Linked DNA regions of Homo sapiens. The protein of the gene in region 1 purifies or fractionates together with the protein of each later gene. This does not show direct contact. Each region holds a gene or a part of one and is shown in the gene's direction. Other genes may lie near its edges. The genes, in order: PRKCZ, LLGL1, NIPSNAP2 and LLGL2.

What was found.
Region 2: the proteins of PRKCZ (region 1) and LLGL1 purify together in Homo sapiens (affinity purification with mass spectrometry; 7 studies listed by BioGRID and IntAct, with this or other methods). This does not show direct contact.
Region 3: the proteins of PRKCZ (region 1) and NIPSNAP2 purify together in Homo sapiens (affinity purification with mass spectrometry; 4 studies listed by BioGRID and IntAct, with this or other methods). This does not show direct contact.
Region 4: the proteins of PRKCZ (region 1) and LLGL2 purify together in Homo sapiens (affinity purification with mass spectrometry; 8 studies listed by BioGRID and IntAct, with this or other methods). This does not show direct contact.

The regions. Positions count from the first base shown.
Region 1 is NC_000001.11:2,046,324-2,053,430, forward strand, and holds the start of PRKCZ (protein kinase C zeta type), read left to right. Parts: upstream 1-4,087; 5' UTR 4,088-4,307; coding exon 4,308-4,378; intron 4,379-4,432; exon of another isoform or gene 4,433-4,689; intron 4,690-7,107. UniProt on the Homo sapiens protein: Calcium- and diacylglycerol-independent serine/threonine-protein kinase that functions in phosphatidylinositol 3-kinase (PI3K) pathway and mitogen-activated protein (MAP) kinase cascade, and is involved in NF-kappa-B activation, mitogenic signaling, cell proliferation, cell polarity, inflammatory response and maintenance of long-term potentiation (LTP).
Region 2 is NC_000017.11:18,221,714-18,228,651, forward strand, and holds the start of LLGL1 (lethal(2) giant larvae protein homolog 1), read left to right. Parts: upstream 1-3,921; 5' UTR 3,922-3,969; coding exon 3,970-4,050; intron 4,051-6,938. UniProt on the Homo sapiens protein: Cortical cytoskeleton protein found in a complex involved in maintaining cell polarity and epithelial integrity. Involved in the regulation of mitotic spindle orientation, proliferation, differentiation and tissue organization of neuroepithelial cells.
Region 3 is NC_000007.14:55,981,585-55,988,606, forward strand, and holds part of NIPSNAP2 (protein NipSnap homolog 2), read left to right. Parts: intron 1-625; coding exon 626-696; intron 697-2,143; coding exon 2,144-2,284; intron 2,285-3,262; coding exon 3,263-3,294; intron 3,295-7,022. UniProt on the Homo sapiens protein: Protein involved in mitophagy by facilitating recruitment of the autophagy machinery required for clearance of damaged mitochondria.
Region 4 is NC_000017.11:75,556,681-75,563,702, forward strand, and holds part of LLGL2 (LLGL scribble cell polarity complex component 2), read left to right. Parts: intron 1-1,474; coding exon 1,475-1,556; intron 1,557-1,831; coding exon 1,832-1,947; intron 1,948-2,571; coding exon 2,572-2,730; intron 2,731-6,335; coding exon 6,336-6,498; intron 6,499-6,650; coding exon 6,651-6,783; intron 6,784-7,022. UniProt on the Homo sapiens protein: Part of a complex with GPSM2/LGN, PRKCI/aPKC and PARD6B/Par-6, which may ensure the correct organization and orientation of bipolar spindles for normal cell division.

The DNA.
Region 1 (7,107 bases):
CAAGCACTAAGCCAGCACAAATGCAGTTTAAGAGGCTGATGAGGGAGGCCTCCTCCTGGGGGTGTGGTGATGGGGACCCCACGGGCCACAGCCAACCCCTCCCAGACGTCCGATGAATCACACTGAGTGTAAACTGCCTCTCTTCTAAAAGGTCTCAACATCACTCGACAGTATCATCAAAGGACTCTTCCTAAGGAAAATCACAGGGTAGGCCCGGCAGCCACACAGAGCCACCTTGGCGGGGTCAGGAGCTGCGGCTCCCAGGTGCCCCAGCCCTGCTGGGAGGCCACCCTCAGCCAGACCCTGCAGCCACACTGCCCTCTGCCGGTCAGCACCCTACCCCAAGCCCCAGCGGTCACCTAGCACCTCCACCTGCGGTCCCAGGCACCGGGAGAGGGAAGGCTGCCTGCACTGGGAGAGGGAAGGCTGTCCGCTTCACGGCCGGGGTTCTTGCTGCTTAGCTGGGGTTTTGGGAAAAGGCTTCACCTTGCCCTATACCGTTCTGTGTTGCTTGAGTTTTATAAAAAGTCAGTGTGACTTTCATAACTTGTTTTTTTCATTTAAAAAATAATAGGTGTTTATGATTATGAAAGTATATGAGAACTTTATGAAAAATTTGGGAGCTACAGAAACTGCTGAGGTGGAAAAGCCTGGCCTTTAGCCACCCAGAGGCCTCTCTCGGAGCCTGCCCTGCCCACTCCAAGGGTCACCTCCACACCCCACCCGCCCCGGAGGACCCAGGGTGAGTCCTTGGAAGCTTCCAGGGCTGTGCCTTCTCGGTGTGCTGGGCTCGATGGGACATGACTCTGTCCCCACCCACTAGGGGTCTTAGGAGGCTGCCTGGCTCCAGCACTCTTGAGGGGTCCTTACCCGAGTCACTCACTCATTCCCCGTGTGCCAGGTGCCTGGAGAAGCTGTGGGGACCCGGCCTAACAGGGCCCAGCCCTCAGCCGGGATCTGGATGGGAGTCGTTGGCAGATTCCAGAGCAAACACCCTGTATCTGTCGCCGGGCGACACAGTGACACCACCGCCAGCCAGTGAGCCTATCCGTGTCTCAGGAAGCGCCCTCTGCCCTCAGGGCCCTCTCAGGGGCACAGGCTCAGGGCAGAGGACCTAGGAACCTCCCTGTGACCTGCCCTGCCTGCCCAGAGGCGGGTCCAGGGCCTCCCAGGCCTTTGTTTTGCAGATCTCATTAGCGGAGACCTCTGCCTCCTGGAGGGGAGGCCAGAGCAGGTACTGGGGGAGGTTTTGGGGACGTTTTGGGCAGCCCCTGTGCCCGCAGTCCTCTGCTAGAGCCTTTCGGAACCTGTGTCTGTCCCGACCCCCCCTCCACCGGCGGCATCAGGGCTGAACAAAGTCTGACACTGGGGTTGACCATCCACTGACGTTGCCCTCTCCCTCCCAACCCCAGAGAGAATAGAGCCCCGCCCCCCACCTTCCCTCGCTGGGACTGGGGCACTGCCACGGCCCTGGGACTGGCTTCCAGGACGGAGGCTCCCGCCTGGCAGCACAGATCTCCCCAGGGAGGCCAGTGCCGAGGGCCTGACCCAGCAGGGGCGTCCTTGGTTAGAAAGGGTCCTCCGGGGCCTTGGGTGGGGCAGGCCCAGGGAGAGATGTCCAGTGACAGGGAAGGACACAACCGAGGGTCCGTCCTGCCTGCTGTGGGCAGTGGTATCAAGGACCGGGCCTTGCTGCCTCCTTGGATCAGAACGCCAGCCAGGAAGTCCTGTGGGTGCCCAGTGGCCCCTTCCAGGCACCGCCCCACTAAGGTGAAACCCTGCTCTTTCCTGCCCATCAGGAAGCGCCCAGGCCATGTTGCCAGGCCAGACTCCAGACAAGGCCACAGCCCTGGCCATGGGGCCTGGAGTGGGGGAGCTGGGCCGACGGGTGCCTGAATCCAGGGCTGCTGCAGGTGCAGGTTCCCACTCATCACTGTACCCTGCCAGGCTGCCCCCTCACCCTCTACTCTCTGCCCCCCTTCATGCCCAGCTGATGGGCATGGGGCTTTGTGCCTGTGCGAGGGATAGAGGGGGTTGCCCCATGGAGATGGGGGTGAGGAGTAGATTGCTGAAATGGGCATTAGGTATGCTAGAGACTTCAAGGAAGTGTGGGTGCCAGTCCAGCAGATCTCTGCAGGCAGGTGCTCCTGGAAGAGGGAGTGGCTGTGCAAAGAGGGAGTGGCCGTGCAAAGACGGAGGCCGGGGCAGCAAAGAGGCCTCGAGGCCGGGGCAGAGGAGCTGGCCTTCCCTCCAGGAGTGATGGGAACCACTGGGGGGACTTCGATGACCCAGAAAGATGGAGTGGGGGAAGACGTCAGCTGAGAGGCTCATTAGGAGGATGCCTGGGGCTGGGTGAGTGTTGGTTGGGAGCTCAGGGGGCCCATCTGAGCTGGGGATGCAAAGCGGGCCAAAGGCTGAGGCTGGGGCTCCACAGTTTTAAAAGCTGCAGACCAGGAGGGCGAGGGATGGGAGATTTAGGGAGCTGGAACCCGGGGCCAGGGATGTGTGAGCCTTCCCAGGAGGGGTCTGATACCAAAGGCCAAGTTAAGAAAATGTCTGAGGCCGGGCACAGTGGCTCACGCCTGTAATCCCAGCACTTTGGGAAGCCAAGGCAGGTGGATCACCTGAGGTCAGGAGTTCGAGACCAGCCTGGCCAATATGGAAAAACCCCGTCTCTACTAAAAATACAAAAATCAGCTGGGCATGGTGGTGGACACCTGTAATCCCAGCTACTTGGGAGACTGAGGCAGGAGAATGGTTTGAACCCAGGAGGCAGAAGTTGCAGTGAGCCGACATCATGCCATTGCACTCAGCCTGGGCAGCAAGAGCGAAACTCCATCTCAAAAAAAAGAAAAAGAAAGAAAAAAAGAGAAAACGTCTGAGAACCGACGGCTTGTATTTAAAACGTGTGAGTGGGTGGTGGCAGGAGAGGTAGACAGGGAGCAGGGCCGGCTTGGCGGAAGCTTTGCTGTAGAGAGGGGCAGAGATGGCTCGGTGGGTGGAGGGAGGGGCAAACGGTGTTTAAGAAGAAAAAACGACAGCTTCTGCGTAGGAGAGGGGCCTCCTGTCCATCTCCAGGGAGAACATGGGTTCTGTGGCCACAGGTCTCCCCAGGGCCTGGCATCAAGGAGGCGCCAGGCACGACCTGCGGGATGAAAGCACGTGGCTGAAGTCCTGGTGGCTGTGTCTGGGTGAGGGGTGTGAGGGCGTGGCCTGAGCAGGTCCACTCTCAGGGGAGAGGGGCCGAGGCCAGGAACTGGGTCTGGGTGTCCACCTGGTGCCTGGGTGAGGTCCTGCAGGCAGCAGGTCTGGGCTTCAGTGGATGCAGCCAGTAAGGGATGGGCTGATCAGGGAAAACCGTATTTTCAGGGGAGGAGCCCAGGAGGCAGGGAGCTGGGCGGCGGTGGAGGGGCCTGGAGGGCGATTGTCCAGATCAAGCCCCTCGAGTAAGGCCCGAGAGGCTGTGGCTTCAGAAATGAAGGTCATGGGCGACTCGGGCCAATGCCGCGTCCTTGACCTGGGCGAAGTGAGCGGTTGCACTCACGAGTGTGGACGGCCCTTCCCTACAGGGGACCTTGGATTCGCTGGGGGCGGAGTGGGGGCTGGGGCCCAGAGAACCCGAGTCCGGACGCTCCCGTCCGTGACCCTGGCCGGGTTCTCCGCTCCTCGCAGCTTCAGTCCGCAAGTGTGAGATGTCAGGGGACCCCTGGACGGCGGGGCCCTCGGGCTGGCAGCGCGCGCCGCAGGAGTTTCGATTCGGAGGGTCTGGGCGAAGGCCGAGAACTCGCGTTTCCAGCGAGTTCCCGGGGGCGCCGCTCCGTCCCAGAGGCCGGGGCCCCTCCGGTTGCCGGGCAGAGCCGCGCCGCGCGCGGTCCCATTGGCGCAGGTGCGCCGCGCCCCGCCCAACAGGTAGCCCCGCCCGACAGGTAGCCCCGCCCGCGCCTCGCCATTGGGCCGCGGCCGGGTGTCCCCCGAGGATTGGCCCAGGTGGCGGCCCCGCCTCGCCCTCATTGGCCGCAGGTGCCACCGCCCGCCCCGGGACCGCCCGCCCCGCGGATTGGCCGCTGGCTCCACCTCGGTCCGCCATGTTCGGACACCGCCCCCCGCCCCCGCCGGACGGTCCCGCCCCGCGCGCCCCCCGCTCCCGCCCCGCGCGCCGCCGGAGTTCCGCGGAGTTGACCGGGTCGGCGCCGTCGGTCCTGAGCGCTGCCTTCCGCGTTCCGCCGCGGCCCCACCTGGAGCCCCCGCCCCGCGCCATGGCCGGAGCTCCCGGGGCGCAGCGCTGACGGCGGCGGGGGGAGCGCGCCATGCCCAGCAGGACCGGCCCCAAGATGGAAGGGAGCGGCGGCCGCGTCCGCCTCAAGGCGCATTACGGGGGGTGAGCGGCGGAGAGGGCGGGGAGCGGCGCGGGTGAGGCAGGGAGGGCGGGGAGGGCTCAGCCGTCGGGGCTCCTGCGCGAGAGGGAGAGAGGGAAGGGGCGGCGAGGTCGCTGCGGGCCCGGGGCTGTCGCGGGAGGTCCTCGGTCCCCGCCCGTGAGCGTCACCCGCGGACACGTCGTGGACAGCGCGGGCTCCTTCCCCGGGACCGGGTTTCCCTGGGGTCGGCCCCGCGCCGCGAGCTCCTCGGCCCGGTCATTGTGGTAGACGTTTTCGCTGGAAAGTTGGGCGGGGACGTTCCGGCCGCAAACCTGTAAGGACTGAAAGTTTTCATCAAGTTGTGAAAACTCCTGGCGGGTTTCTTAAAATCAGCGTTTCCTAAACGTTCTCCACGTTTACCCGGTCGGGGGTCTCGCTTTAGCCAAAATCCGGAGACCCGGGGCGCGGGCGCTGTGGCTCCAATGCAGCCCCCGGCAGGGCTCGGGGCGGTCGGGCGGGGACAGGGGTTTCTGGAGGAGACGGTGGGGCCGAGACTGACCCTGGGGTTTGCGTCGCACCCGCCCCCCGGAGGCCCTTGCCTGGCTGTGGGAGGGGGCGCGGTCAGGTGCTGGAGCGGAGGGGTCCTGGACTCTTGGCCGCCGCCTCGGGGCAGCGCTGCTGGGGGTGGCGGGGGCTGCACCAGGTGGCCGGGCTCACAGGCACAGCGGAGGGGTCGCTGCCCCCCGAAGTGTGGGCGGTGGGGAGGGGAGGACCCGTGGGTTTGTTCTTCCACCTGTGCGCGTCTCCAGGAGCCCCGAACTGGGACCTCCGCTCCCGCGAGGGTGGCTGCTGCTGCAGAGAGGGAGGGGAGCAGAATGCGGGCTCCGGACTTGCACTGGCTGGTCCTTGGGATCTCGAAAAGCTGCTCCTGCCCCGGTGCGTCCTCAGCTACAGCGTGGGCAACCTGAGCCCCAGAGGCAGGGACGGCCGGCAGGGTTAGGCGGGTGACAACTTCCCCGGGCCACGTCCTCTCAGGACAGTGCCCCGGGGGTCTCTATGGTGCCCTGCGAGTCTGAGCGGGTTCAGCTTCCTGCGAACCTTGTCTTGGGGTCTCGGGTCAGCCATCTGGGGCTGCTTGGCCCCGGGTTTGTTGAGGAGGCTCAATTGTCTCTTCTTTGGGAAGGTTGGGGCCTCTGCAGCTCCCCTGTGGCAAGCACCTGGAACCTTCGGGGTGCAGTGGCCCGGGTTTGGTGCCAGAACCAGAAGAAAGGGATTTCTGGGGGACTGACCGTCCAGCCCTACCTGAAGAGGTAGGGCAGCCATGTCTTTTGGCCTGGAGGTCAGCAGGTTAAAACTTGGTATGGTTGACGTTCTGGCTATTGGACTTGTCCAGGGACCTGGGCTTCCTGTCTCCTTGCCATTCTGGAGCCACCACACTGGGCAACAGGTGATGGTGCGGAGCTCAGGGGAGTCCTGCGAGAGGGAGGTCCACACCCGAGGGGCTGCAGGGGCCCAGACCCTCCTGCATTCCGGCGTCCAATTCCTGGGACCAAGGCTCGGAGGCAATGCCACTGGAGTTCTGGGCCGCCCCGTCCTCCCTCTGCCTTGCTTTGGCCCCTGGGAGCACTTTGGTGGTGGGGCGGGTGTAATTCCACCCGGTGACTCTGGTTTCCCAGGCTGGAGAGACCAGGCTCCCACCCCTTCCTCTTCCCTCCCTTCCCGGACTCTCTCCCCTCTCTCCCCACCCCTTCCTCTTCCTCCCTCCTTCCCTGTTGTTTTCCCTCCTCTTCCCGCTCTCCCCTCTCTCCCTTCCCTGCCACACCTCTTCCTTCACCTTCCTCCCCCTTCTAGGGCACGTCTCCCCTCTGGCTCTTCCCTGCTCCTACCATTCCTTCTCTCCTCTCTCCCCTCCCAGGTCCTCCTCCTCTCTGCTGCAGAGTGTGAAGTACCCTTCTCCCCGTTCTGGCTCCTCGTCCCTCTGGGCACCCGGTGCCTCTCTGAGGGGACTGGCTGTGGGGTGGGACACTCAGGCCTTAGGGCAATGACACAGTTCCAGAAAGCGGCTGCCAGGATGAGTACTGGGTTATTGAAAGCCCTAGAAACTCTGTCCCTGGGGTGAGACGCTGCTGTCCGTGGGGGTAGCTGAGCGTGGACACGTGGAAGACTAGTCTTTAGAAAAAGGAAGAGCACTTCAGTCACCCCCATGGGGCATGGCCACCCCGTCATCCTTGCCTGTCCTCCCAGGGCCCTCTGAGCACACTTGAGATCCAATCCTCGCCACCCCACCCCGCCCCCTGTGGGCCTGAGGGGTCCCCAGGCACCTGTGTTTTCAGGGAGTCCCAGGTGGCCTGGGCCAGACTCCCACGCTGAGTCTCAGATGCCCGCTCTTCTAGGGCCACAAACACTGGTGCTGGCTCTTCCCTCTTTCAGCTCAGACTTTTTTTTTTTTTTGAGTCTCGCTGTGTTGCCCAGGCTGCAGTGGTGTGGTCTCGGCCCACTGTATCCTTCACCTCCGAGGTTCAAGCAATTCTCCTGCTTCAGCCTCCCTAGTATCTAGGACTACAGACGCCCGCCACCACGCCCGGTTAACTTTTGTAGTTTTAGTAGAGATGAGGTTTCACTTTGTTGGCCAGGCTGGTCTCGAACTTCTGACCTCGTGATCCGCCCGCCTTGGCCTCCCAAAGCGCTGGGATGAAAGGCGTGAGTCACCGCGCCTGGCCCAGCTCAGACAACGTTTGTGTTCAGGGAGCTT
Region 2 (6,938 bases), on another chromosome or scaffold:
TCTGAATTAACAAGTGTGTGTGTGTTGTGGGGTGGGGGTACTGACACTTTGCGAATCCGTTTGCCATGAGACTCTTCCCTGCCTATCCCCTGGCTCCTTCCACTAGGTACACTCCTTACCCATTACAACCCATGTGCACTGTCCTCTCCCAGCAGGACACTGACCCTGGGCCAGATGCCTCTTCTGGGCTCCCACAGCCCCAGTGCATGCCCCATCATAGGACGGTGAGCTATGGTTAGCTGTGGTCTCGACTCAGTTCTGTTGCCCTGCTCCCCAAAAAACTGTGAGATAGGGGTTGGGAAAGGCATGGCTGCTTACTGCCTAATAACCAAGTCCCATTGAAAAATGGGGACTGCTGGCTGGGTGCGGTGGCTCACACCTGTAATCCCAGCACTTTGGGAGGCCAAGGCAGGCAGATCACGAGGTCAGGAGATCGAGACCATCCTGGTTAACACGGTGAAAACCCGTCTCTGCTAAAAATACAAAAAATTAGCTGGGCATGGTGGCACAGACCTATAGTCCCAGCTACTCAGGAGGCTGAGGCAGGAGAATCGCTTGAACCTGGGAGGCAAAGGTTGCAGTGAGCTGAGATTGTACCACTGCACTCCAGCCTGGGCGACCGAGTGAAACTCTGTCTCTCTGTCTCAAAAAAAAGAAAAAGAAAAAGAAAAATGGAGATTGGGTGTCGGGTGCAACGGCTCATGCCTGTAATCCCAGCACTTTGGGAGGCCAAGGCAGGCGGATCATCTGAGGTCAGGAGTTCAAGACCAGCCTGGTCAACATGGTGAAACCCGGTCTCTACTAAAAATACAAAAATTAGCTGAGTGTGGTGGCGCATGCCTATAGTCCGAGCTACTTGGGAGGCTGAGGCAGGAGAATCACTTGAACCTGGGAGGCAGAGGCTGCAGTGAGCCAAGATAGTGCTACTGTACTGCAATCTGGGTAACACAGCAAGACTCCATCTCAAAAAAAAAAAAAGAAAAAAGAAAAGAAAAAGGAAAAAAAGGCTACTCCATAGGCAGAGTTGTCCTTTGTTTTTTTGAGATGGATTTTCACTCTTGTTGCCTAGGCTGGAGTGCAGTGGTGCAATCTCGGCTCACTGAAACCTCCGCCCGCCGGGTTCAAGCAATTTTCCTGCCTCAGCCTCCCGAGTAGCTGGGATTACAGGCATGTGCCACCATGCCCGGCTAATTTGGTATTTTTAGTAGAGATGGGGTTCCTCCATGTTGGTCAGGCTGGTCTCAAACTCCTGACCTCAGGTGATCCACCTACCTCGGCTTCCCAGAGTGCCAGGATTACAGGCGTGAGCCACCGTGCCCGGCCAAGTTGCCTATTTTTGTGGTCATTTCCTGATGATATGCTAAACGTGGATTATTCATATCTCCCCTTTTTAGACCATATAGAGTAACTTCATGACGTTGCCATGACATTTGTAAACTGTCATGGCGCTAATGGGAGTGTAGCAGTGAGGATGTCCAGAGGTCATTCTCGTGGCCATCTTGGTTTTGGTGGGTTTTGGCCAGCTTCTTTACTGCAATCTGTTCTATCAGCAACGTCTTTATGACCTGTATTTTGTGCCGACCCCCTCCTAGCTCATCCTGTGACTTAGAATGCCTTAACCATCTGGGAATGCAGCCCAGTAGGTCTCAGCCTCATTTTACCCACCTCCTATTCAAGATGGAGTTGCTCTGGTTCATATTACCCTGACACATTTAATCTCCACAACAACCCTTTGAGGTAAATACTAATATTATCACCATTTTTACTGATGAGGAAACTGAGGCACAGAGAATTTGAGGTAACTTGTTCCAGGTCACATAGCTTCCAAATGGTAAAGTGGGAATGTGAATCAACGTTTTTTTTTTGTTTGTTTGTTTGTTTTTTTCATTTATCACGCTTGTTGCCCAGGCTGGAGAGCAAATGATCTCGGCTCACTGAAAGCTCCACCTCCTGGGTTCAAGCGATTCTCCTGCCTCAGCCTCCTAAGTAGCTGGGACTACAGGCACCTGCCACCATGCCCGGCTATTTTTTGTATTTTTAGTAGAGACTGGGTTTTTCCCAAACTCCTGACCTCAAGTGATTTGCCCGCCTCAGCCTCCCAAAGCGCTGGGATTACAGGTGTGAGCCACTGCTCCTGGCCTTTTTTTCGAGATGGTCTTGCTCTGTTGCCCAGGCTGGAGTGCAGTGGCACGATCACAGCTCACAGCAGCCTCAACCTCCTGGGCTCAAGCCATCCTCCTGCCTCAACCTCCTGAGTAGCTGGAATTTACAGCTGGGCCACCATGCCCAGCTAATTAAAAAAATATTTATTTATTTTTTTTCTGTAGAGATGAGATCTCACCCTACTGCTCAGTCAGGTCTCAAACTCCTGGGGTCAAGAGATCCTCCCTCCAAGGCCTCCCAAAGTGCTAGGACTACAGGCATGAGCCACCGCGCCCAGCCAGCAACTTCTTAACACTTCCTGTGTGAGGCAGGGCAGGGACCAGAACCCAGACCTCTGAGCTGTCCCTGCTGCCTGTGCTGGTGTGGCGTGGCCAGTGGCCAAAGGGGTCTCATCCTCCTCAGTCCAGCAGCTCTGCCAACAACTAACAGCCTTTGGCTGATGGTCTCAGCTTCCTCATTTGGGATGGGTAATATTGTTGGCTCCCTCGTAGAGCTACTGACAGCACTAAGTCAGCTGAAACCAGGAAAGGGCTTTGAACAGCGCCTGCCCCGCAGTAGACACTTAGGGGCTTTACTGTCGTCATTCTCCCTCCTCTCACCTCCTCACTCACTCCTGGGCCCTCTTCCGGATCCAGCCCCAAATACGGGGAAGGGCTGAACACCGCCGGCCTGGCGTGGGTGGAGGGGGACAGCCAGGCCCCAAGGCTTGGCAGCCGCCTCGGGCTCAGAGGTCAGCTCCTGCTCCCTGGACACAGCTGGTGGGGTTGGGGCCTGTCCTACCTGCCCCACCTAAGCTTCTAGGACCTCCCGCAGCCCCAGCCCTGAGCCAGGCGGCCTATCCTCAGCCTGGAAGGAAAGGTTCAGCCTCGAGGCCATTGTCCAGATGAGAAAAGGCCTGGGAGGTGGGTGGGGACAGGCAGACGGCCCCTGAGAGTAGGGGCAGGGCTAAGCTTTGTTCAGACGCTGTTCTCTGCGGGGGGAGGTCCTTCCCCCATCTCCGTAAAGCTCCAATCCAACCCCAGAACAGTCCCAAATGCCACCTCCTGGGGATCCCGTCTCTTTCTTTGGCTAAGAAAGAATCCCCTGTGCTGTGACACAGAGCCTTTTGCGTTGGGTCCTGAAAGATGTGTAGGAGTTCCCCAGGGGCTGGGGGTGAGGAAAGAATTCCTGACTACAAAGCCAAGGCAAAAGCACGGCGGTGGGAGGTGCTCTGACAGAGCGGGGAACAGACGAAATGGAGTTCTGTGAAATTGGTAAAATATAAACTTGGCAATCACTTGACCAATGGTGTAGATGGGGAAACTGAGGCGCAGAGGGGCCAGGGAGTTGTTCCAGTCAGAGCTGTCTTGGCTTTCGGAACAGGGCTGCCCCATTACATGAGTGGGCACGTCGCTCGCTCTCTGGGAGGAGGAAAAAGTCTCCTCCAAGCCCGGGAACGTGCGCCAATCCCCCTCCAAAGCGCTTCCCCAGCCGCCCGCGCTGGAGCCCCGGCTCATGGACTACAAGTCCCGGCAGGCCCCGCGCCGCGGCGCATGCTAGGCGGGCGTCCCTTCGCGAGCCCGGCCGAGCCCGGGGGCCCAGTTCACCATTGTCTGGCCAACAGGGGCGGGGCGGGCGGCACGGCGGGCTCGCTCACTGGTCGGGCGGCGCGTCCGTCGCGCCCGGCGCCCACCCCCGTGCAGGCCCGGCCCCGCGCGCCCGCGCCCGGGCCGCCTGGCGCCCCGCCCGCGCCTTAGGACCCGCGGGGCCGCGCGGCGCATCCTGCGGGCGGCGGCGGCGGGCGAGGCGCCTGCAGCCGGGCGCAAGATGATGAAGTTTCGGTTCCGGCGGCAGGGCGCCGACCCGCAGCGCGAGAAGCTCAAGCAGGAGCTTTTCGCCTTCAACAAGGTGCGGCGGCGGCCCGGGCCCGGGCTCGGGCGGGAGGGGGCGGGACGGGGGCCTGGGCTGGGGGCCCGGGGTCGGAGCCACGTCGGGCCCGGGGGGCGGGGGCTGGCATGCAGCGCGGCGCGGGGCGGGGCCGGGCCGGGCCGCGCACCCCCTCGGCGGGCCCCGCTCTGGCTCGGACTCTGGGTGGGTCTGGGTCTCCGGCCGACTTTCCGTGTCTGCTCCCCGAGTCTCTGCGGGCCGCTCTGGCCCTGGCTCTGCCAGTCTGTGTGTGTGGGGGTCTGTCTCTGAGACTCTTTGCCTGTCTCTGGGTCTCTGTCCCTCTTTCTCCGCCGCTGACCGGCTGTCTCGCCCCAGTTGTGCCTGTGTGTGTGGTGGGGGTGTCTCTGCCTCTGCCCCTTCCTATCTCTGCCTGTCTCCCTTTATCTCTCTGCCTCTCATTTCTCTTGCTGCCTGTGCGTCTCTGAGTCTTCTTTGCCTGTCTCTCCCTGCGTGTCTCTCTCTCTGTCTCTGTGGAGTCTCTCGACCTCTGTCGCTCACTTCTGTCTCTTTATCCTTTTTCTTAGGGGCTCCATTGCGTCCCTGCTCGGCCCTTGGGACAGCCCTGGGGCCCGGTTTGTTTTGTGCTTTGGCACCCAGGAGGGTGAGAGAGTTAGTGGGGGCGAGGCAGCTGTGGGGGGTGCGGCTGGGAAATCCCTTCAAGGAGCCTCTCCTTCCTTCCCCCACTGCTCCAGGCTCTGCCTTGCCCTGCTCTGCCCTGCCCGGGGCTCCGAGTCCAGGGGACATGCCTGGCTGTGTACTACACTGCACTTCGCATCGTGGGGCCTCAGTTTCCCTAGCTGTGAAATGAGGCTACTTTTCTCCATACTGTGGGCCCTGGCTCCCTCTGCCACATGGGCCAGCTGTCCTGCCTTTCTGCACCAAGGTGGAGTGAGGTGGAGGCTTTTCCTTCCTTTCCCGGAGTGGGACACTAGGGGCCAGGGAAAGGGGCCGCCTCAGCCCCCGCCTCCCTCTGCACTGATGTTAGAGCAGGGCCTCAGCCCACTCCTGGCTCACTGCTCTGGGGACGTTGGTTTTGTCCTCATTCTTACCCCAGAGCCCACTGATGGCAGAGCCTCTCAGTGCTCTTCGAAATTAGAGTTATCTTCAAAATACAGGTGAGAAAATTGAGGTTCTGAGAGGGGTGACGGCTTGCCCGGAGTCAGAGTGAGCTGCACCAATATCTTTCTTGAGTTCTTGTGTCAGTGGGGTTGGATTTTAGCCTTGAGGGGCAGGGATTTTTCCAAGGGGCTGCTGTGGTCCTGGGCCAGTGTTGTGCCAGGCGCCCTGGGCTGCCTTGAGGAGACACTTGTCTTGGAGGAGGCTCTGGGACGGCTGGACCTGGAGTAGTGGAGGCACTGGGATGTCTCAGGGTTTCCCTGCCTAGGTCTGCAGTGATTGCCGATGAGAGCTGCCAGGACCCTCACACGGTGGCTGAGAACCTGCTAGGAACCTGAGAGGGGCCCAGAAGGGAAGCTGGTGCTCCGTGGTCCCCAGATGGCACCTATTTTCTGTGCCGGGGAGGCTGTGAGGGTGAGGTGAGAGGAGAATGGCCCTTCAGGGAAAGGCAGCAACAGGCACAGGGCTAAATGTCACTTTTTTTTTTTTGAAATGGGGTCTCACTCTCACCCAGGCTGGAGTGCAGTGGCACAATCACAGTCCACTGCAGCCTCACAACTCCCTGGCTCAGGTGATCCTCCCATCTCAGCCTCCTGAAGCTGGGACTACAGGCTCGTGTCACCATGCCCGGCTAGTTTTTGTATTTTTTGTAGAGATGGGGTTTCACCATGTTGCCCAGGCTGGTCTCGAACTCCTGGGTTCAAGCTATCTATCCATCCATGTTGGCTTCCCAAAGTGCTAGGATTACAGACATGAGCTGCCATGCCTGGCCTAAATGTCATTTCTTCAGCCAGTGAATTGGGGTGTGCAGTGGGGGCTGGAGACAGATGGGGGTGAAGCTCAGCCCACTCTGGCTAGCCTTGGGGTGGCGGAAAGTAAGGGCCCTCCGCTGAGGATGAAGCGTGGGCAGCAGTGGTGGAAAGTGGGGTGGTCTTGGGGAAGGGACTTAGTCACCTAAGTGGGTAATAGGTGATCGCTAGGGAATAGGCCCCTGATTCCTGAGCTTAGGGGGTGGGAGACAGGTCAGGAGTGAGCAGGGACTTTGGACTCTGAGTCTTGGGTTCAAATCCCAGTCCAGCCCACACATCGCCTGTGGAATGTGCCTTCTCTGTTAATACTGAGCCCCACTGTGTGTGAGGTCTCCAAGGTGCTGGGGACAACAGTAGTTACCAAAAAGGACAAATACCTGTTAACTCAGGTGGCTGATATAGTTGTGCAGGAGACAGTGAAAAGCCAAAACAAAAAAGTAAAATAGACTGTAGTTGGGATGGTAGCCAGTGCTGTGGATCAAATAAAGTAGGGCGAGGGGGTGAGAGGTGTGGCCAGGGCGGCTGCTGCAGCCAGGGTGGCCTTGGGAGGCTTCTCTGAGGAGATTACTCCTGAGCGACAGGAAGTGCTGGAGGAAGTGCGTTCCAGGCAGAGGGGCAGTAGGTGCAAAGGCCCTGAGGCACAAGCCTCCCTTAGCTGGGAGCCCCAGGAGGATCCTGAGCAGGGGAGGGACAAGGATCTGGCTGTGGCTTTCATAGGATCCCTCTGGCCTCTGTGGGAACAGACTGTAGTGAGTACCAATCCAGGCACGTGACGGTGGGGCCTGGAGCAGGGAGGGAGGTGACTTCTGTGTGTTTTGAAACTGAGTTGATGGGGCTCAGAAATGGACTGGACGTGGGGTATGAGGGAAGCAGATGCTGGACAGTGCATGTAACCTCCTTTCCTCGTTTGTAAAATGGGAAGGC
Region 3 (7,022 bases), on another chromosome or scaffold:
TGGAATAAACACTTCTTCCTTAAGCCTTATGTAACACTTAAGTAATTTTCTAATTTAATGCTTGTTCTTATCATCAAAGCTTTCCAAGTCTCAGTCTAATTTTATGATTAAAGTAGTTTCTTCAACAATTCATTGCGAAAATGGTTTTAAAATTGTTTTTAATGTTTGAATCTATTATTGAACCATTATGATGTAACTCATAGGCCAAAACATGGGGCATTACAGTTTTTTTGTTTTTTGAGACAGAGTCTTGCTCTGTTGCCCAGGCTGGAGTGCAGTGATGAGTATCTAGGCTCACTGCGACCTCTGCCTCCCGGGTTTAAGCGATTCTTCTGCTTTAGCCTCCCAAGTAGCTGGAAATACAGGTGCCCACCACCACACCCAGGTAATTTTTGTATTTTTAGTAGAGACAGGGTTTCACCATGTTGGCCAGGCTGGTCTGGAACTCCTGACCTCAAGTGATCCGCCTGTCTCAGCCTCCCAAAGTGCTGGGATTACAGGCATGAGCCACCACACACCCAGCCTACAGTTTTGTGCTGTGTTAACGTTATACCTATCTAGAACATTTTCAAGTAGTAGTATCATGAAATTCTAAACGTATACTGTCTTTTAAAATGCATTTCAGTCCACCTCTGGAGGTATGAAGGAGGCTATCCAGCCCTCACAGAAGTCATGAATAAACTCAGAGAAAATAAGGTAATGATATTGAAAAATGTTTACTTAGACTAATGATATATAGATGTTAGTACAGAATTAAATGACTTTTCTGTCTTCAGTTTTTGTTAATAAACTTCATTTTTTTGTAACAGAAATTTTATTGTTTGGACTCCTGAAGTTGTATTTAAACATAAACAGTTGTAATACTATTCAAACAACAATTCTGACCGGGCGCGGTGGCTCACGCCTGTAATCCCAGCACTTTGGGAGGCCAAGGCAGGCGGATCACAAGGTCAGGAGATTGAGACCATCCTGGCTTACACAGTGAAACACTGTCTCTACTAAAAAAAATACAAAAAAATTAGCCGGGCTTGGTGGCAGGCACCTGTAGTCCCAGCTACTCGGGAGGCTGAAGCAGGAGAATGGCGTGAACCCGGGAGGTGGAGCTTGCAGTGAGCTGAGATTGCGCCACTGTACTCCAGCCTGGGCGACAGAGCAAGACTCTGTCTCAAAAAAAAAAAAAAAATTCTTATTGTTCTTATTATAAAAGTCAATTATGCTTTGAAACTGATAAGGTGGTACTTTGAAACCGGTGACTGGGCTGGGTGCGGTAACTCATGCTTGTAATCCCAGCACTTTGGGAGGCCAAGGCAGGCATATCAGTTGAGGCCAGGAGTTTGAGACCAGCGTGGCCAACATGGCAAAACCTCATCTCTACTAAAAATACAAAAATTAGCCGAGCATGGTGGTGCACAACTGTAATCCCAGCCACTCGGGAGGCTGAGGCACGAGAATTGCTTGAACCCAGAAGGCAGAGGTTGCAGTGTGCCGAGACTACACCGCTGCACTACAGCCTGGGCAGCAGAGTGAGACTCTGCCTCAAAAAAACAACACAAAAAAAACCCCCAAAAGACTGGTGACTGGTGTATCAATCAGCATGGCAGGCACAATTAGCTCTGGATGACCTAAAACTGTCTAATTCAGGAACTGTTTGTCACACACATAGAGTTTATCTTGGGCTGACTTTGCTTTCCACCCTCCCTTCACTAGCAGGTGTTTGTCAATAGGGAGAAATTTAAAAGCCACACATCATTAAGAAAGAAATTCTTTTGTATAGATTCCCAGACAAATATAAATAGGTTTTGAATTATCTGCTCTTTTGTAGTCTGCATGCTACTTCTATTGATGTGCCATCAAACACTGTTAGAAGAATCTAAAAATATAGCAAATTAAATTTGTTTGCATTGCCACCTAAATAATTAGGATGACCAAGTAATTTGTCATCTAAACCTGGACACTTTTGAGAATGAAAAGGAATGCTGTTAATGATTATGCAAGCTCAACAGATGTAAACTGGGACTGTCTCAGGCCAACTGGGACCTGTTGATTACCCTATTATAGTATTCTGTAGGAACATCAATGTTACTGAAATGGGCTTATATGTAAGTATCAGAAGATTTCATGAGCACATTTTTTTCACTCAAAGGAATTTTTGGAATTTCGTAAGGCAAGAAGTGACATGCTTCTCTCCAGGAAGAATCAGCTCCTGTTGGAGTTCAGTTTCTGGAATGAGCCTGTGCCAAGATCCGGACCTAATATATATGAACTCAGGTCTTACCAACTCCGAGTAAGTACAGAAATATAAGTTATTCCTTTTACTCCTCTGTGAAAAAGCACAAGCATTTTGTAAGGCTGACAACAGAACTTGTGTGTACATTCTGTGATGTATGTCTAGCATTATATGTATATATATGTATTTTTTTAAGACTGGGTCTCACACTGTCACCAAGGCTAAGCTCTTTTGCTTTTTATGGCCTTACACATAATGCTTATTATTTGATATTTTTCTAAATAACATATTTGTTTTTAAGAAGAAAGACCTAAAGTGCAGGATAAGGTACAATATGTAACATCTGTTGTGGTTAAAGGAGAGCAGCTAATAAACACTGTGACTGTTGAACAAATTATATAACATGATAAGAGTAAAAGGCAATAATATAACACTTTCTAGAAATTTTCCTACTGAGGACTAGAAAGAAAGCCCCACATAGCAGCATTATTAAAGTGGCTAATGCCTGTAATCCCAGCACTTTGGGAGGCCAAGGTTGGAGGATTGCTTGAGCCAGGAAGCTTGAGACCAGCCTGAACAACATAGTGAGACCCTGTCTCTATTAAATTAAAAAGTAAAGTTTTGGCTGGGTGTGGTGGCTCATGCCTGTAATCCCAGCTTTTTGGGAAGTCAAGGCAGGTGGGTGACCTGAGGTCAGGAGTTTGAGACCAGCTTGGCCAACATGGTGAAACCCCATCTCTTACTAAAAATATAAAAAATTAGCCAGGCATGGTGGCGGGCGCCGGTAATCCCAGCTACTCAGGAGGCTGAGGCAGGAGAATTGCTTGAACCCAGGAGGCGGAGGTTTCAGGAGCTGAGATTGAGCCACTGCACTCCAGCCTGGGTGACGGAGCAAGATTCTGTCTCAAAAAAAAAAAAAAAAAAGGTTTTTTGAAGTTAGTTTTGTCACTTAATGTTTTTTCTACTGCTGTTTGCTATTTCTGTATTTTTTTTTTCACAGAAGAACTAACAAACCAAATCTAAATCTGTTTTCAGCCAGGAACCATGATTGAATGGGGCAATTACTGGTGAGTATATTACTGAATGGTGATTTTTTAAGTCTTGTGAATAGATTAGTTTAGGCCATAGTGTTAATTCTAGGGAAAAAAATCTGAGGATAGTACTGTGACTTAACACTGCACTAATGTTTCGTTTGATGTTTTTATTATGAGATTTTTCAAACATACAAAACTAGAGAGAATAATGGGGCTCCCCTTCCACATCCATCTCTTAGCTTCAATAATTAACACATGGCCAATCTTGTTTAGGCCTAACTCCTTCAACCCAGATTGTTTGGAATTAAATCCCAGACAGCATTCTATTTCATTCATAAATATTTCAGTACTATATATATTTCTAAAAGATAAGCACCTTTTTTTTAAAAGCAAAACCAATATTGCATAAGGTTAGTTTACATACTTCTTGGATATCATCTTTTCTGAAACGTTACTTTTGTCATATATACACACCATGTCAATAATGGTTTCTTCTTTTTTTCCTTGCTAGTTTGAGTAGAAAAATAACAATTTTTCCACAAGTTGATATGTAGATTCAGCAGAATCCCTATCAAACTCCCAGCAGGCTTTAGAAGTGCAAAAGACTAGCCAGGTGCACTGTGGCTCATGCCTGTAATCCCAGCACTTTGGGAAGCCAAGGCAGGAGAATCACTCAAGTCCAGGAGTTCAAGACCAGCCTGGGCAACATAGTAAGACCCCCAACCTCTACCAAAATAAATAAATAAATAAAACTAGCCAGGTGTGATGCCACATGCCTGAGGTCCCAGGTATTTGAGAGGCTGAGTAAGAGAATTGCTTAAGCCCAGAAGATGGAGTTTGCAGTGAGCCAAGATTGCACCACTGCACTCCAGCCTGGGCAACAGAGTGAGACCCTGTCTCAAAAAAAAAAAAAAAAAAAAGTCCGGGCATGTTGGCTCACACCTGTAATCTCAACACATTGGGAGGCTGAGGTGGGCAGATCACCTGAAGTTAGGAGTTCGAGACCAGCCTCGCTAACATGGCAAAACCCCATCTCTACTGAAAATATAAAGATTAGCCGAGCGTGGTGGTGCACTCCTGTAATCCCAGCTACTTGGGAGGCTGAGGCAGGAGAATTGCTTGAACCCAGGAGGCAGAGGTTGCAGTGAGCTGAGATCACACCACTGTGCTCTAGCCTAGGTGACAGAGTGAGACTCCTTTTCAAAAAAATAAAATAAAAATAAAAATAAAGACTGGGCATGATGGCTCATGCCTGTAATTCCAGCACTTTGGGGAGGCTGAAGGAGGAGAATTGCTTCAGCCCAGACGTTTGAGACTTTGAGACCAGCCTGGGCAACATGACGAAACCCCAACTCTACAAAAAAATACAAAAATTAACCGGGCATGGTGGCACACACTTGTAGTCCCAGCTCCTCGGGAGGCTGAGGTGGGAGGATCACCTGAGCCTTAAAGGTGGAGGCTGCAGTGAGCCATGATTGTACTACTATTCAGCCTGGGAGAGAATAAGACCCTGTCTCAAAAAAATAAAAAATTAGGGCGGGGATGGTGGCTCACACCTGTTATCCCAGCACTTTGGGAGGCCAAGGTGGGAAGATCACTTGAGGTCAGGAGATTGAGACCAGCCTGACCAACTTGGTGAAACCCTGTCTCTACTAAAAATACAAAAATTAGCCACGTATGGCGGTGTGCACCTGTAGTTCCAGCTACTCAGGAGGCTGAGGCAGGAGAATCACTTGAACCTGGGAGACAGAGGTTGTAGTGAGCCAAGATCACCCCATTGCACTATAGCCTGGGTGACAGCAGACTGTTTCAAAACAAAACAAAAAATTGCCTTACTTTCAGTGATACTAAAAAAAAAAATTTAATTAAAAAGACAAGTCATATACTGGAATAAAATATTTGCAAATCATATGTCTGATAAGCAAATTGAATTCAGAATAGATAAATAATTCTTACAACTCAATAATAAGAATACAGATAACTCAATTAAAAAATGGGTAAAGAATTTGAAAAGACAGCAGCTGGGTGTGGTGGCTCACACCCGTAATCCTAGCACTTTGGGAGGCCAAGGCAGGAGGATCGCTTGATGCTAGGAGTTGGTGACCAGCCTGGGCAACATGGTGAAACCCTGTCTCTATAAAAAAAAAAAAAAAAAAAAAAAAAAACTTGCCAGGCGTGGTGGTGGCACATGCCTGTAGTCTCAGCTATTCAGGAGGCTGAGGTGGGAGGATTGCTTGAGCCTGGGGAGGTGGAGACTGCAGTGAGCCATGATCATGCCACTGCACTCCCAGTGAGACCCTGTCTCACAAAAATAAAAAATAAATTGAAAATGGAATTAGTGTGATTCAGCAGTCCCACTTCTGGATATATATCCAACAGAATTCAAAGCAGATCTCAAAAAGATTCGCATACCCATGTTTATCATAGCTTTATTTGCAGTAGCCAAGAGGTAGAAACAACCCACATATCCATCAATAGATAAATGGATAAAGAAATTGTGGGCTGGGTGCGGTGGCTCACACCTGTAATCCCAGCACTTTGGGAGGCCAAGGCAGGCTGGTCACCCGAGCTCAGGAGTTTGAGACCAGCCTGGCCAACATGGCAAAACCCCGTCTCTACTAAAAATACAAAAATTAGCTGGGCGTGGTAGCGTGCACCTGTAGCCCCAGCTACTCAGCAGGCTGAGGCAGGAGAATCACTTGAACCCGGGAGGTGGAGGTTGCAGTGAGCTGAGATCGCGCCACTGCCCTCCAGCCTGGCAACAGAGCGAGACTTCATCCCCCGCCTCCAAAAAAGAAGGAAGTCTTGTCTTATACTGCAATATGGTGAACATTGAGGAGGATGTAATGCTAAGTGAAATAAGAGGACAAATAGTGTATCATTCTCCTTATGTGAAGTATCCAGTGTTGCCAAAATCATAGAAACAGAAAGTGGAAAGGTGGTTGCCGGGAGCTGGGCAGAGAGGGAATACGGAATTGGTGTTTATTGAGTATAGAGTTTCAGTTTTACAAAATGAAAATGTTTTGGAGATCTGTGGCATAACAGTGTAAATATACTGGACACTGCATAAAAATGGGTAAGATGGTAAATTCAATGTTAACGTGTTTTTTTTACCACAATAAAAAATACGTTTAAAAAATGTTTAGGCCAGGTGCAGTGGCTCACAGCTACTTTGGGAGGCTAAGGTGGGCAGATCACCTGAGATCAGGAGTTTGAGACCAGCCTGGGCAACATGGTGAAACCCCATCTCTACAAAAAATACAAAAATTAACCAGGTGTGGTAGCACATGCCTGTAATCTCAGCTGCTTGGGAGGCTGAGGCACGAGAATCACTTGAACCTGGAAGGCAGAGGTTGCAGTGAGCTGAGATTGTGCCACTGCACTTCAGCCTGGGCTACAGACCCTGTATCAAAAAAAAAATTTTTTTTTAAATAAATTTTAAAACTTTTTAACGGACAAAGGATTTGAATAGGATTTCACCAAAGAAAATACATGAATGCCCATAAGCTTATGGAAAGGGACTCAACCTTCTTAGTCATTATGGAAATGCAAAGTGAAACTATAATGGGATACCAGTTCCTGCACACTGGGACAGCTGTAACTTAAAAGAGATAGATAATAACGTGTTAGTGAGGTGAGGAGAAAGTGGACCCTTCCGATATTGCTGATGGGAATGTAAAATGGTGCAGCCACTTTGGAAATAGTCTAGTAGTCCCTCAGAAATTACATGTGGGCTGGACGCAGTGGTTCACGCCTGTAAT
Region 4 (7,022 bases), on another chromosome or scaffold:
TGCCTCCCTCAGCTCCCCACCTCACCACCAGAAAAGCAAGTTACAGGGACCCCTCTTGTCGCTAGGGATGTTTTTAATTTAAAAAAATTTTTTTCGGCACTTTGGGAGGCTGAGGCGGGCAGATCACTTGAGGTCAGGAGTTCAAGGCCAGCCTGGTCAATGTGGTAAAACCCTGTCTCTACTAAAAATATTTTAAAAGTTATCAGGGCGTGGTGGCACATGCCTGTAATCCCAGCTACTTGGGAGGCTGAGATGGGAGAATCGTTTGAACCTGGGAGGCAGAGGTTGCAGTGAGCCAAGATTGTGCCACTGCACTCCAGCCTGGGCAACAGAGTGAGACTCTGTCTCAAAAACTTTTTTTTTTTTTTTTTTTTTTTTTGTGGAGACAGGGTCTTGTGATCTTGCCCAGCCTGGTCTTGAACTCCTGGGCTCAAGCAACTCTCTCGCCTTGGCCTCTCAAAATGCTAGGGTTACAGGCATGAGTCACTGCACTCCCAGCCTGCAGTTTTGTTTTTTAACCTATCTCGATAAGAATCAGAGGTGGACTGGCCCCAGGGCCCTATCCACAAGCAGAGATGGGGTGGCCTTGGGCCAGGAGAGCAGGGCTCGGCAGCTGTCTTCCAAATTCCACCCCCACTCCCACAGGCGGCAGAGAGTGGAGAGGGCTCTGCCTGGCAGGGACAGTCCTTCCCCGGCCTGAGGCTGGATGTTGTCCAGTTGGGTCATCTTTTATCCAGAGCACTGGTTCTGGCCGACTGGGGGCTCCCAGTGTTTTCAGAGATGAAAAACCGGATCAGGTTGGGCACCCCGCCAGTCTGATCTGTGCTCCCCTCAGGGCAGGGCCCAAGGGAGTTGAGAGATGAGGGACCACCTCCAATAGCTTGGCTGCCACCTCCAGCGGAGCCTGACCTCCCTCTTCCCCTCTGCCCGGTGTGGGGGAGGGGTATGGAGCACTCGAGTTCCAGGCTGGGCTGGTGTACACAGGGGGCCAGGGCCTTGCTGCGGGCTCAGCCTTCCCTCGGCTGGTTAATCATTGCCAGGCCACAGCCAGACTCTAGTTACCAATCCCTGGTGCCAAGACTAATGGGCCAAGGCTGTTGGTGATAGGCCCCCTGGGGTGCCGTGTGTTTTTTCACAGGTGCTACCAAGCGACAGCCAACATGTCTTTTGCAGCTCAGGATCAGGGTGGCAGCCTGACAGTTGCCAGGGTAGGGCTTCGCCTTTCTATGGAGTTGCTCCCACCGGCCTGACTGGGAAAAATCTCCCAGGGATCAGGTCACTGGCCTGGTGCCCCAGGGCCAGGGCTGCTGTGTCTCCTCCCCACCCTAGGCTCCATGCATGGGTCCTGCTGCCTCGGGGGAGGGCAGCCCCTCTCTGTGTTTGCATCATTGCACATGGGCCCCGAGGGCCTGGCACTCAAGGCAGGCAGGGGATGGTGTCCGACCTTCCAGAGCTTTCCTGAGCCTACTCCTAGCTACGGAGCCCCAGGCGTGGAGTTCATGGGGCTGCACCAGGAGAACAACGCTGTGACGCAGATCCACCTCCTGCCCGGCCAGGTGAGGGACCTGGGGTGGGACAGGAAGCCACTTCCATGCCCTCCTTGCCTTCACTGCTTCCAGCAGGGCTGGTGTGGAGAGGCTGGCATTCGGTGGCCCTGGGTTTGCTGCTGATGGAAAGACCTGGGACCCCCTCCCTTTCCACAGCTGGGGCTCATGGGCCACCCTGGGAGTGGCCAGGGGGTCTTTTAAACAACTGGGGCTGCGTGGCCCCAGTGTGTAAAGGCCTTGCCTGGGTAGCAAGACCACATGATCCCGTCGTGTGCCCTCGCCAGTGCCAGCTGGTCACCCTGCTGGATGACAACAGCCTGCACCTTTGGAGCCTGAAGGTCAAGGGCGGGGCATCGGAGCTGCAGGAGGATGAGAGCTTCACACTGCGTGGACCCCCAGGGTAAGGGCTCAATCCCCAGCCCCTTCCACTCCCAGCCCAGCCTGACCCTTGCCCTTAGCTCTGGAGTGGACTCACCCTTTGTGAGGCCTGTTGCGCCCCTGGCAGTGACTGGCATGCGTTTGGCCCGATGCATCGCCACACTCAGGTGCTCCGAGTGGAGTGGGCGGGGCTGCAGCCTGCCTCCTCCATCCACACCACGCCTCCTCCATCCGCACCCCACCTCCTCCATCCGCACCCCGCCTCCTCCATCCGCACCCCACCTCCTCCATCCACACCACGCCTCCTCCATCCGCACCCCACCTCCTCCATCCGCACCCCGCCTCCTCCATCCGCACCCCGCCTCCTCCATCCGCACCCCGCCTCCTCCATCTGCACCCCGCCTCCTCCATCCGCACCCCGTGTTATGCTGGAGGGTCCCTGGCGTCTTTCCTGCCTCCTAGCCCAGGCTCTCTGCCATCTGTCTCCTGTCTTGGCAGAAAGTGACCAATGTTTGTCCTGGCTTGAAATGTTATGACCTCATTAAAGGGCCTTATGGGCTTGTTTTCCGAGGAGTCAGGGGACCCCGTCCATGGCATCTCCCCTGCTGGGCAGTGGTCGGCTCACGGGCAGCTGTTCTTGTCACAGGGCTGCCCCCAGTGCCACACAGATCACCGTGGTCCTGCCACATTCCTCCTGCGAGCTGCTCTACCTGGGCACCGAGAGTGGCAACGTGTTTGTGGTGCAGCTGCCAGCTTTTCGTGCGCTGGAGGACCGGACCATCAGCTCGGACGCGGTGCTGCAGCGGTGAGCCCAGAGCCCAGCTGCTGTTAACTCCATCCCCTCAAGTTAGGCATGGCTTCTCCCCTTGGTCCCAGGACTCTGTCAGGAGCTGTCATTTCTCTGCTGGGAATTCCATGGGGCTATAGCAGGGGAGGCTCTTGGCTTCCTACCTGTCACCTACTGAGAACCTATTGGCCTGTCATAGGTTAGCATCATAGCACTAAAAAGGGGGCTTTGAGGGTCCCTCGTCTAAAGGCCCCAAATGACTGTGTAATGTCACCGACTGTCAGTCCAGTGTCCTTTGCACTTGCCATGGGTTTCAGAACCCCAGGGGCTCCGCAGCGGGGAAGTCGGGCCCAGACCTCCCTGTGTCACTGGGGCAGCTCCTGGTGCCACCCTTTGCGGTGGGTACTTTGCTGAGGTTCCATTTGCTCGCAAGCTCCGTGGCTAAAAAGCCTTGACCGCCACAGGCATGTGGGTCTGTTGAGATCGTTTCAGAAGCTTTGCTCCTTGTTGATGATACTACATTAGAGAGGGAGTTGGATCAGGTCCGGGTGGGAGAAGGGGACGGGGCCCAAAAAAAGAGAGGAGATAGCATCTGACAAGATCATGTTGGGGCCGGGTCGGTCATGGTGGAATGATCTGTGGTTCCAAGGGGCAGGAGGAGGCCAGGGTGCTGGGCCCCTGGCCCTGCAAGGCTTTGGACTGGGCCTGGGACACACTCCTGCAGCTGGCCAGCCCAGCTCTCCAGCCCTGGGTGGTGATGAAGCAGGGCCCGTCTGCCCAGGGCAGGGCATGACTGGGCTGGGAGGATTCCCACTTGGAGCTGTGTCCCTCTGAGTGCAGACCTCTGCCTTTCCCGTTCAGCAGGGTAGGGCTGGGGCAGTGTGTCCAAGGTCAGAGCAGAACACTTTGCAGGATGACAGGTACCACAGTGGGACACAGCCTGTGGGCAGGACGGCATGGGACCTGCGCCCCAGCAGGTGGCCACACCAGTGCCCAGCCTCACCCTGTAGTTAGCTGGCGGGAATCTAGTCGGCGGGGGGGCCCAAGTGCCCTGAGAGCCCCTCCTGCCAGTTTATTTATATTATATTATATTATATTTTATTTCATTTTTGAGATGGAGTTTCACTCTTGTTCCCCAGGCTAGAGTGCAATGGCACGATCTTGGCTCACTGCAACCTCTGCTTCCTGGGTTCAAGCTATTCTCCTGCCTCAGCCTCCCGAGTAGCTGGGATTACAGGCATGCGCTACCACACCCAGCTAATTTTGTATTTTTAGTAGAGACAGGGTTTCTCCATGGTGGTCAAACTAGTCTCGAACTCCCGACCTCAGGTGATTGACCCGCCTCAGCCTCCCAGAGTGCTGGGATTACAGGCATGAGCCACAGCGCCTGGCCCAGTTTGTTTATTTATTAAAAAAAAAAAAAAAAAAAAAAAAAAAAAACAAAGAAAAAACATTTTTTTTGAGAGAGTCTTACTCTGTCCCAGGCCGAAGTGCAGTGGCAAGATCTCAGCTCACTGCAACCTCTGCTTCCTGGGTTCAAGTGATTCTCCTGCCTCAGCCTTCCGAGTAGCTGGGATTACAGGTGCACGCCATCACACCCGGCTTATTTTTGTATTTTTAGTAGAGACGGGGTTTCACCATGTTGGCCAGGCTGGTCTTGAACTCCTGACCTCAGGTGATCCACCCACCTCGGTCTCCCAAAGTGCTGGGATTACAGGTGTGAGCCACCAGGCCCAGCCCCTTTTGGCAGTTTAAATTCTCGTCCTCTTGATGACACTTATCTAAGTTTTTAAAACGTGCAACCCTTTAGTCTCATAACTGTCTCTGAGAAGTCTCTGTCCTAAAGATATAGGATAAGAATGATCATTGTAGGGCTGTTTTTAATGGCAAAAAGTTGGAAGCCCTCTAATTGTCTAACAATTTTCATCTGTGTAAGGACATTATTTGCATTTATTAAGAATATCTAGATGGACACAGTTGCTCACACTTTGGGAGGCTGAGGTAGGAGGATTGCTTGAGGCCAGGAATTTGAGACTAGCCTGGGCAACATAGCAAGACCCTGTCTCTCCTCACAAAAAATAAAAATTAGTTGGGCAAGGCGGCACACGTCTGCAGTCTCAGCTACTTGGGAGGTGGGAGGATCACTTGAGCCCAGGAGTTGGAGGCTGCAGTGAGCCATGATCAGGTCACTACCCTCCAGCCTGGGTGACAGAATGAGATCCTGTCTCTAAAAAGATTAAAAATTAGGCCGGGCGCGGTGGCTCACGCCTGTGATCCCAGCACTTTGGGAGGCGGAGGCGGGTGGATCACCTGAGATCAGGAGTTCGAGACCAGCTTGGGCAACATGGCGAAACCCCGTCTCTACTAAAAGTATAAAAAATTAGCCTGGCATGGTTGTGGGTGCCTGTAATCCCTGATACTCGGGAGGCTGAGCAGGGAGAATTGCTTGAACCCCGGAGGTGGAGGTTGTGGTGAGCCGAGGTCACACCACTGCACTCCAGCCTGGGCAACAGAGCGAGACTCCCATCTCAAAAAAAAAAAATTAAATATTGAATATTAAAGTCCCCTTCAACTCTCACTCTTGATTCAAATTCTAATGTCAGTGAGGTCAGTGCTAGCAGTAGATGTGCCAGATATAGATAATGTGGAGAGCTTGGGTTTAGTGTGGCTTGGGTCCAGGCTGGGTCCACTTCCCACATCCTTGCTGTTGGCTGTTGGTCCTGTGCCTGCTGCCTTGTGGTTTTTTTGTTGGCTGCAACACCTCCAGCCCTCACGGCAGCATTCCAGGCCTGGAGACGGGGCAGGGGTCAAGGCTCCAGGGCCAGGCCAACTCACACAGAGTTTTGTTTTATGGGGCTAAAAAACTTCTTTATTATTAAACACTCCCTTTTGCAAAAATGCACTGAATATGAATGTACAGTTTAACAGATTCTTGTAGAGCATCCTTGCAGCCTTCCTGCCGGGCATAGAAATAGAACTTTGATGCCCTCCGGAGGTCTTATGCACCCTTCCTAGTCAAGGCTCCCTCTTGCCCCCACATTGACTTTTCCAGAAGTCACTGCCTTGCCTTGCCTTATAATTGTACCGCCTGTGTTTACATCACTGGAGGTTGTGTCCATGTCTCTGTCTTGTTCTACATGCTGCCCTTCTCCCCTTGGTGACATGTCCTAGCCATCTTTCTTTCTTTTTTTTTGGAAATGGAGTCTCACTCTGTCACCCAGGCTGGAGTGCAGTGGCACGATCTCGGCTCACTGCAACCTCCGCCTCCTGGGTTCAAGCAATTCTCCCGCCTCCGCCTCCCAAGTAGCTGGGGTTATAGCCATGTGCCACCACGCCCAGCTAATGTTTTATATTTTTAGTAGAGACAGGGTTTTGCCATGTTGGCCAGGCTGCTCTCAAACTCCTGACCTCAAGTGGCCTGCCCACCTTGGGCTCCCAAAGTGCTGGGATTACAGGCATGAGCCACCACGCTCGGCCATCCACTGCGCCCAGCCCCTAGCCATATTTCTATGCTGGCACATGGAGCAGCCACCTCTGCATAGGGAGCCCCATGGCTGTGCCATGCTGGGGGCCATTCCCCCTGGTGGACGGCATCGGAGGCTCACGGCACTCCCCTCGCCCAGGTTGCCAGAGGAGGCCCGCCACCGGCGTGTGTTCGAGATGGTGGAGGCACTGCAGGAGCACCCTCGAGACCCCAACCAGATCCTGATCGGCTACAGCCGAGGCCTCGTTGTCATCTGGGACCTACAGGGCAGCCGCGTGCTCTACCACTTCCTCAGCAGCCAGGTAGGCAGTGCCCAGGACATGGCAGGCGCCATGTTGCTCTCCCAGGGCCCCAAGTGGCACATACACACTGTGCAGAGGCATGGGGTGCAGGCGATGGGAACGCCGCCTCGGTCCAGCGTGCTGCCCTCTGTCCCTCTCCTCTTCCTCCATAGCAACTGGAGAACATCTGGTGGCAGCGGGACGGCCGCCTGCTCGTCAGCTGTCACTCTGACGGCAGCTACTGCCAGTGGCCCGTGTCCAGCGAAGCCCAGCAACCAGAGCCCCTCCGCAGCCTCGTGCCTTACGGTCAGTGTTTCACCCGCCGGGCAGGGCCCACCCCCAGTGCCTCCTGGATTCAGGTGCAGGTTGCTCAATTCTGAAGCAAACTCCAGGGCCAGAGAGGGTAAAGGCTTTGTCCAAAGCCACACAGCAGGGTTCGCCTCACCCAGTTTCTTGGGGAACTTCTCGGAGCAAGATTCCCAAGCACAGGTCTACCATGTGGATGTGGCATGAGCTAGAGGGATCTGTGCCTGTGGGGACTGACA